Regions from separate parts of the Homo sapiens genome. Here regions 2 and 3 are each linked to region 1. The links come from fine-mapping of genetic effects on gene expression. A gene starts in region 1. Each other region holds a variant in brackets. All regions are shown on one strand. Distances are from middle to middle.

What was found. PIP is the estimated chance that this variant, and not a neighbour inherited with it, causes the effect.
Region 2: its variant is the best candidate, but not a certain one, in a credible set for the expression of CSTF2T in whole blood (TOPMed, PIP 0.73).
Region 3: its variant is the best candidate, but not a certain one, in a credible set for the expression of CSTF2T in whole blood (TOPMed, PIP 0.68).

Annotation. Positions count from the first base shown.
Region 1 is chr10:51,698,501-51,701,270 of GRCh38, reverse strand. CSTF2T (cleavage stimulation factor subunit 2 tau variant) reads left to right here and starts at 1,676. Exons shown (of 1, transcript NM_015235.3): 1 at 1,676-2,770. The coding sequence starts at 1,722. The region is part of intron 3 of PRKG1 (protein kinase cGMP-dependent 1); the gene reads right to left. RefSeq lists a silencer at 548-842 and enhancers at 596-1,284, 1,409-1,988.
Region 2 is chr10:51,249,624-51,252,393 of GRCh38, reverse strand. The region is part of intron 2 of PRKG1 (protein kinase cGMP-dependent 1); the gene reads right to left. Among named protein-coding and RNA genes, the nearest start is that of MIR605, 49 kb to the left of the region's middle. The variant C/T (reference allele first, on the strand shown) is at 1,267.
Region 3 is chr10:51,918,011-51,920,780 of GRCh38, reverse strand. The region is part of intron 5 of PRKG1 (protein kinase cGMP-dependent 1); the gene reads right to left. Among named protein-coding and RNA genes, the nearest start is that of CSTF2T, 220 kb to the right of the region's middle. The variant G/C (reference allele first, on the strand shown) is at 1,341.

The DNA.
Region 1 (2,770 bases):
TAAGAGGCATATTTCAGAATAAAATAATTCTCTGTTTTGGAATTAAAGCACAGGCTTGGAGCAGTCCAGTCCACAGAAGTATAATGCAATCTATCCATATAATTTTAAATTTTCTAATAGCCACATTTAAAAAAGTAAAATGAAATGAATAACATTAACTTCAAAATAATTTTTTACTCAAATATATAAAAATATTACATTTCGACTTATAAAAAATATAAAATTGATGGGCTATTTTTACTTTTTTTGTATTTGATCATTAAAATCTTTCATGTATGTTACATGTATGGCACACCTCAACCAGTATGTTAAATTTTGACTGGAAATACTTTCTTTTTATTTGTTTTTATTTTTTGTCTTAGTGTTCTTCAAAATGATTTTTATTTAGAACACAATTTATTATTGCAAAAGTAGATTCTATATCCAAGTTGTTCTAAATACTAAAAAAGTTTTCCAATAGCTTACTGAACATTAGTTTTTATATTTAAATAAAAAATGAGATTTAAAATTCATTTCTTCAATCACACTAGCTTCATTTCATATATTCAATACACGTAAGGCAGTGTAGAATTGGAGCTATGCGAGACCAAGCTGGGTTAGAATCCTGACTTGGCCTCTTTCCAGCTGCTTGTCCTTGGGAATTTACCTAGCCCTCTCCAAGCTTCAGTTCTAGCTTCGAATTGCAGGCGGGGAAACACCACACTGAATATGTTTTAACTCCTACCTGCAAAGCTAACAGCAGAAGACAAACACCCGCTATTTGTTTCTCCCTTCATGGAAGTGGTGGACTCACTGCATGATATAATAAAAATCAGAACCAATCAACGTAGGGATAGTTAAGTAAATTTCTTTATTCCATACTCTGAAGCCATAAAATACTAATAACTAATTAATCACTAATTTATTTAATCACCAATTAATATTGAAATCGGTTGTTATTAAGGAAGAAAACCGTAATATTAGGAATAGCACGACGGCTGCCCGTGTGCTCAGGAAAAACCTAGAAGGGTCTGCCACCCATCCATTAACAGCGGTTATAGGAAGCAACAGAATGGGGGCAGGGCCCAGCCGGCACACGCTTCAGTTTATATTTCTTGTCAGTTAATTTCCAAAAACGTTGTTCTAAAAAGGAGATATAATACTGTTTTAGTTTAAGGGGCAAATCTCAAATGTGCTGAAACGACTACGCTTTTCCCTCAGTCTGGAATGTGATTTTAAATCTAGCTTAACTATACTATAATAAAAGGCCACATGAAAATACTTTGTCAGAACGAAAAACACGCCGCCTTAAATCCGCTTTCGGTTGGCGGTTTCCCGCCAGCGGAACGGAAGCAAAACCGCCTTTGACGTCAAGGGAAGAGTCCCCTCCCAGTTACTACGGTGAAGTCTATGCGGCCATCTTTACTGTGGTCATCTCGTACCAAGCGTGTCGTAGTGGGGCTGTTGGGGCCCCACAGAAAGTCAGCGGAACGTGAAATGGGAAAGGAATCATGCGACTCTGTAATAAGAAGCTGACAGAACCATGAAGGATCAGGGACTGAAAGCATTAGATAAGTTGTTAGTGGGATGCAGGTTCCACAGGCAAGCGGAACGATTCAAGCGAATTAGTAAAGTTTCTGCCCGGATCTTGAAAGCCGCTTCCGTTGCTCAGCGGAAGTGTCGGTCGCAAGAGGACAGACGCCTCGAAGAATCCGCTATCGGCTGTCTGCACAACCGGAATCATGTCGAGTTTGGCGGTGAGAGACCCGGCAATGGATCGATCACTGCGTTCCGTGTTCGTGGGGAACATTCCATATGAGGCAACTGAGGAGCAGTTAAAGGACATTTTCTCGGAGGTTGGTTCTGTTGTCAGTTTCCGGCTGGTATACGATAGAGAGACGGGAAAACCCAAGGGCTATGGCTTCTGCGAATACCAAGACCAGGAGACCGCGCTTAGTGCCATGCGGAACCTCAATGGGCGGGAGTTCAGTGGGAGAGCGCTTCGGGTGGACAATGCTGCCAGTGAAAAGAATAAGGAGGAGTTAAAGAGCCTTGGGCCTGCAGCGCCCATTATTGACTCACCCTATGGGGATCCCATCGATCCAGAAGATGCCCCTGAATCGATTACCAGAGCAGTAGCCAGTCTCCCCCCGGAGCAGATGTTTGAGCTGATGAAGCAGATGAAGCTCTGTGTCCAAAACAGCCACCAGGAAGCTCGAAACATGTTACTTCAAAATCCACAACTGGCTTATGCACTGTTGCAGGCACAAGTAGTGATGAGAATCATGGATCCAGAGATTGCTCTGAAAATTCTGCATCGGAAGATACATGTCACACCACTGATCCCAGGCAAATCTCAGTCTGTGTCTGTCTCTGGCCCTGGCCCTGGCCCTGGCCCTGGGCTCTGCCCAGGACCTAATGTTCTGCTGAACCAGCAGAATCCTCCAGCTCCTCAGCCTCAGCATTTGGCTAGAAGACCTGTGAAGGACATTCCTCCTCTGATGCAGACTCCTATCCAGGGTGGAATTCCAGCTCCAGGGCCAATACCAGCTGCAGTTCCCGGAGCTGGTCCTGGTTCCTTAACTCCTGGAGGAGCAATGCAGCCCCAACTTGGAATGCCAGGGGTTGGCCCAGTGCCTTTAGAGCGGGGACAAGTGCAGATGTCAGATCCTAGAGCTCCTATACCTCGCGGACCCGTGACTCCTGGTGGTCTGCCTCCTCGAGGACTGTTAGGAGATGCTCCAAATGACCCACGTGGAGGGACTTTGCTTTCAGTCACTGGAGAAGTGGA
Region 2 (2,770 bases), 450 kb after region 1:
ACATGCATTTTATATTTGGGCTTAAAAATAAGCACCAAGTGTTTGATAAGTACTTATCTCTGTGTTGGTATGTATTTATAGTAAAGACATTTAAAAAATCAATGAAATTTATTCCAAATAACAAAAGTGTTATCACCTGAAGACTTGCAATTCCTAGTCTATTAGAAGACAAATACTATACAATAGAGCACTCAGATTCCAGACTTTGTTTTTTGTTTTTGTTTTTGTTTTGCTTCTGTCATCTGTGCGGCTCATTGTGCCAGTATATGGTCTGATCTGACATAGCTGGAGTTTTCCTCAAAAGAGAAGACACTCATGCATGTGCACACACACACACATGAATTACATTAGACTAATAACGTATATATGCAATAGTATGCAATATACTGCATATTATCTGCAACATAAATATGCAAGTAATATGCTACTTATTGCTTGAGTCTTCATTTATTACTAGCAGCAGTAAATTATGATTATATCAATGTCTCATGTTTATGGCCAATACATAACAGGACTGGAGAGAACTTTCAGCATTCGGTAGCTGATTAACTCAAGATCTAGGAGAAGCTGTTGCATTTGTGAACCACAAAACTTCCGTACACATTTTGAGTAGAGTTATGTCTTTTATTCCAAGTATTTAAGAGCCAGAGGTTGATTCTTAGCAGAATTCTATATCAGAAGTATACCAATTAGCTAGTATGTTACCTCTTCCCAAGGAGTGAGTTCTTAAGAACTTTATGGGGTAAAAAATACCTTTTAGATTATATAGTAGAAAATGACCATTTTTTTTCTGTGTTCCTAAAGATTTCTTCATATAAGTTGAACTTTATTCAATTACCATTTGATCACTTCTAATATGAGGGTCTTTAATGACCTTAATCACAATTTTATTTAAAATATGCAGATATAAAGGAACACTGCACATTCAGCTGAGTGCCTGGCAGATACAATAAGCTGTTCCAAATGGAAATGAATTACACATATCCTTCCAAGTGGTATTTCCTCTTGTAGGTCAATCCATGCTCACAAAGAGTTCATGGCTAAAAAATGCTTTTAAGAGGACTGACACCTTGTAGAGAAAGAGAAATTTACAACTTCCTGCCAAGACTTGATTCTGTCAGACTAAAGACGCAACTTGCAGATGTCCTTGCCAATTTATGAAACAGGTGCCTGGTCTGCCTTAAAGGAAAACATGACATGACTCTATATTAAAATAGGAAAAGGAAGCAATGCAATTTGTTGTTTACCATGTGTTATTATGGGAAA[C/T]CTATTATAAAAGGTGGAACACATGGGTTCATGTGTATCAGTGAAGCAGTCAGAAAAACTATCCCTTATTTAAGACATAATATCACAATAAACATTCAGGAAGTAAAATCTGTCTGTAGAGTTGGGCAGGAGGCAATACACAATAACATAAAAAGGAGGGGAAAACATCGCAGCTCTAGTTCTGTATTCTCCCAGCACCTCAGCTTTCTTATCTATAAAACAGGAATAACAGTAACACTACCAACACAGGGTGTAGGGCTGGAAGGCATAGAGAGGGCTTCACATACACTAGGAGCTCAATACCAGTTCTTCTACTTCCTCCTCCTTTTACAACTATCACTGTAATAATGTGAGTAAAGGGGTTTGCATGGCCTGTCAAAGGAGATGCATTTCTCATCCCTTCATTACTCTTGCACAATTCCATTTTGTCATAGATGGAGTTTTGCACAGTCACTTGTCAGAGATAGAAAGGCAAGTGCTTTTCTAAGCTGAAAAAGGCACAAACTTTAGAAAGAAAGGATGGTGTGTCCCTGACTGCTTTTGGAAAAGTGAATTCCAGTGAACCTCCTTGCTTCAGTAGTAAGCTGGGAGACACAACACATTCAGAGAGAAAACAGCTGACAAAATCATCCATCAAAGTCTGAGACTGGGAATTCACCAGTCTCCATGAAAGGTCTTTGCTTTTGCATGACAGGTTATTCCATCATTCTGAAACATACTTCCCACTTTCCCATGGGTTAAACTTGTTCTATGATCAGCAGTCCAATTCAGGTTTCAAGCAATCATTCACTCTTAGTTCTTTCAAATGTCATAAATTGATACGTTGCTAAACATTAGTTTCTCATAGAATGTTTCCTAGTATTTCTCAAACTGTGATCATTTTTATGCCACCAAATATTCATTTTCTTGCCAAAAGCAAGATAAATTTAGATATCTGCCTTCTCCCAAGGTATACTGAATAAATTGGTCTTTTGCCAAAAGGCTGTTTAGGGTAGGTTGGGGAGTTAAACCACAGCAACCCTGCAATGAGAGGGACAAGCCTCACTTTTCCATTCAGTAACTGTAGGCTCATGATGTCAGTAAGACTTCCAGGGTCTCAGTTTTCTCCTCTAATAAACAAAGTACCCTAGATGATAAGAATTACATAAATGCATGTGGATATGTTCTAAGCTATGAAGCATCATCTAACATATTACTTACGCTTTTAAAGGCACTTAAGCACAATATGACATTTTAGAGTTCATAATTACAAATGTGTCACCTGGAATACAAAGATGACAAATATGCCCGGCTATTAGAATGCACACTTCACAATGATAGTAGTGTTTGTCATGTTCACTGGGCTGCAGAAACACTGGAACAGTGCCTCACACATAGTAGATGCTCAATCAGTACTGTTGAATGAAAAATTGTATAGTGTCCTTTGTTAAACATAACAATTTATAATATGCTGCTACTTGCGATTATTTTAATAAATGGTCATTTTTTTCATTTATGTTCTGTC
Region 3 (2,770 bases), 220 kb before region 1:
AGTAAAATTAGAAACAGTTCTATGAGGTAGGTATTATTACTATCCTTCTTTTCCAGAAGAAAACAAATGGAGCTTAGGGGAGTTAAGTAACTTGCTCAAGATCACATAGCTAAGGAATGATTGAACCACAATTAAAGGGTGCTGCCAATATTCAAACCCAGGCATTATAATTATATGGCGATATAAAGATAGATATATAAACACACACATATATGCATACATATATCCATATATGTAGGATCACTATCTCTATTCTGTAGACACGAAACTAAACAGAAAGAGAGAAGACATGAACACTGTAAGATTGTTAATTAGGAGATTCCCATAGGCAAGCACTAAACTGTAACTGGGAAATCGGCAAGATGGCTATCAGAGGCCTTCACATCCTTGTGGAGTGAACAGTAACTGACAACAGTTCAGCTCTCTCCCCGGGGCCTTATACTGGAAAATCAACAACTTCTACAAAAGTTTCTTTCTTCTTCAAAATATCCTTCTAAAGGTTTGGCCTTTGTTATATCTCCCTGGGATGGATAGGGAAAGGAGAAGGATGATAGAAGAAAAATGAGTCTTATTCCTTTCCCATGATCTTTCTGTCCTTAGCTTCCCACACCTTCTTTGTTTTCCACCTTGATTGTGTATCCTTGACAATCTCCTACCAGCAACCTCTACTCTACATGCCCTCATGATGAGTTCTTGTATTTCAGAAGGCATGCTCCCTGTCCTTGATGCATTTTTAATCTAGTTGTGGTAATAAAGCATCCAAATGCAAAACAGAACAATTTTGTTTCATTCATTGGGTCACTCGGGTAGCATGTATGCATTTATTGTAAGCCTACTCAGACTTCTGATTCAACAAATATTTATTGTTTATTTAATAAGTACCAGGCATAATTCTTCCACAAATCCTTGCTGTGCTGGAAACTTGGGATATATGTTAAGACATACCCTGTGCTTAGGTACTTACAGAAAACTGGGAGACAGACAAGTTCCAGGCAATATAGGATCAAGCATGCAGCTTTGTAGTACAAACTGTACAAAAGGATTAAGAAAACAACAAACAGGATAGAGTAGAATTAGTCAGGGTAAGCCACTTTAAAAAAAAAAGGTGGGGGGCTGTTCAATTTGACCTTAAAGAACATTTTTGGAAGAGGAAAGAGGAGTCAGGGAGAGACAACACTCTCATGCCTAGCAATTATTAACATCTGTAATGTAAACTGATTTGCACAAAGTCAAAGCAAAAAAAAAAATCTGCAGAATGGTATTGCACAGCAGGTCTATTTACAAGACAAATCATGTTACGTTTATTAAAATAATAATTTTTAGGTGTAAGTAATAAAAAA[G/C]AATGGTAGCTCTTCCCAGAGAGTGAAGAGGAGCTCACTTACAGAATCTCATAATAATTAAGGGAACACGTAGAACATGAGGCAAACAGAACATCCTTTCTCACAACAACTGCCATCTCCCTAAAGCCTTGGTTGGTCACGGTTTGTTCCTCATTAACATTGACTGATTTGAGGAATGCTCATTACTAAAATACTGCCTGCCCTGGTTCAGAGCCTTATCTACCAGGAAACAGACTTATACCCCCTGGCCTAAGGAACTGCATGATTCCTTTTCCGCAGGGAAGCAGTAGGTTGCCCTTGCTATGGATTCAGAGAAGTACTCTGTAGTCAAAGGTCTTGGGGAGGCCTGGAACTGAATACCCACATTATCTCCTGCACCACGTTGTTTGATAACTCTCCCTAGCACAAACAAGCTTTGTATTCTGTGGCTAAAACTGAAAGCCCAACTGATTTTCTTATCTTTAGCCTGTTACTTGTAAGCACGAGTGGGCTTCTATTCTTCATTGATTTATGCCTTAGATGCCAACTGTGTACAAGCCCGTGAGCTAGGTTTTCTGGCAGCTACAAATATGTCTCGGATTAAGAAAAAAAAATAGTTGAAAATCTTGGGTCAGGGCAATTTATCTAATTCAGACCAGTGTGCATCACTTGTCCCTGTAAAAGGAATTTGGAGCTCATCGTGATCTGCTCAGATGCTATCAAATGGCATTTTGTAAGCAGATCTCACACACATGCTGAAGGCAGGCTACTAATTTACAGTTTCACACAAATCCACTATTTGTTTACAAACCCCATAAATGACAGCAAATCACACAAATACCAAGCAGGTTTGTGTATTCTTACAGAGCAACCATTTCGAACACTTTCCATGAATGTTTTCTAGAAAGCTGATTTATTGCAGATTGGTTTCCTATTTGCAGAGCACATACATTTTAATGAATTACAAGCAGCATGGAGCAAAGCATGCATATTCTGGCAATAAAATGTCTAGAAACACTTTGTTTCGGGTCTCGTGGAAAGCATAAAATGGATCCCTGTCACAACAAATTTAAAATGCTGACTGAGAAAAAGCTAATTACTCTCACAAAAAAAAAAATAAAAAAAAAATAAGTCAAGTCGATATTTTCAGAAGGAAGTACAACCTATTTAAAAGAAAGAGTCAGGGGTGGGAGAAGTTTTTCTTTTATTAATTCCGCAAACTTTCAAGTTACAATGCAGTATAGTACTGAAAGGTACTGATTCCAGGGTCGGATTGCATAGGGTAAAATACTTCCCCATTTAATTCGCTGTGTTATCTGAGGCTCAGTCTTCCCACCTGCACATTGGGACTAGGAATAATAAGAATAGTACTATTGTTATTACTCAGATGGGATTAGACAAATGGCCTTAGCCTGGCACAGAGTTTGCATCAATAAGTGGAAGGTATTACT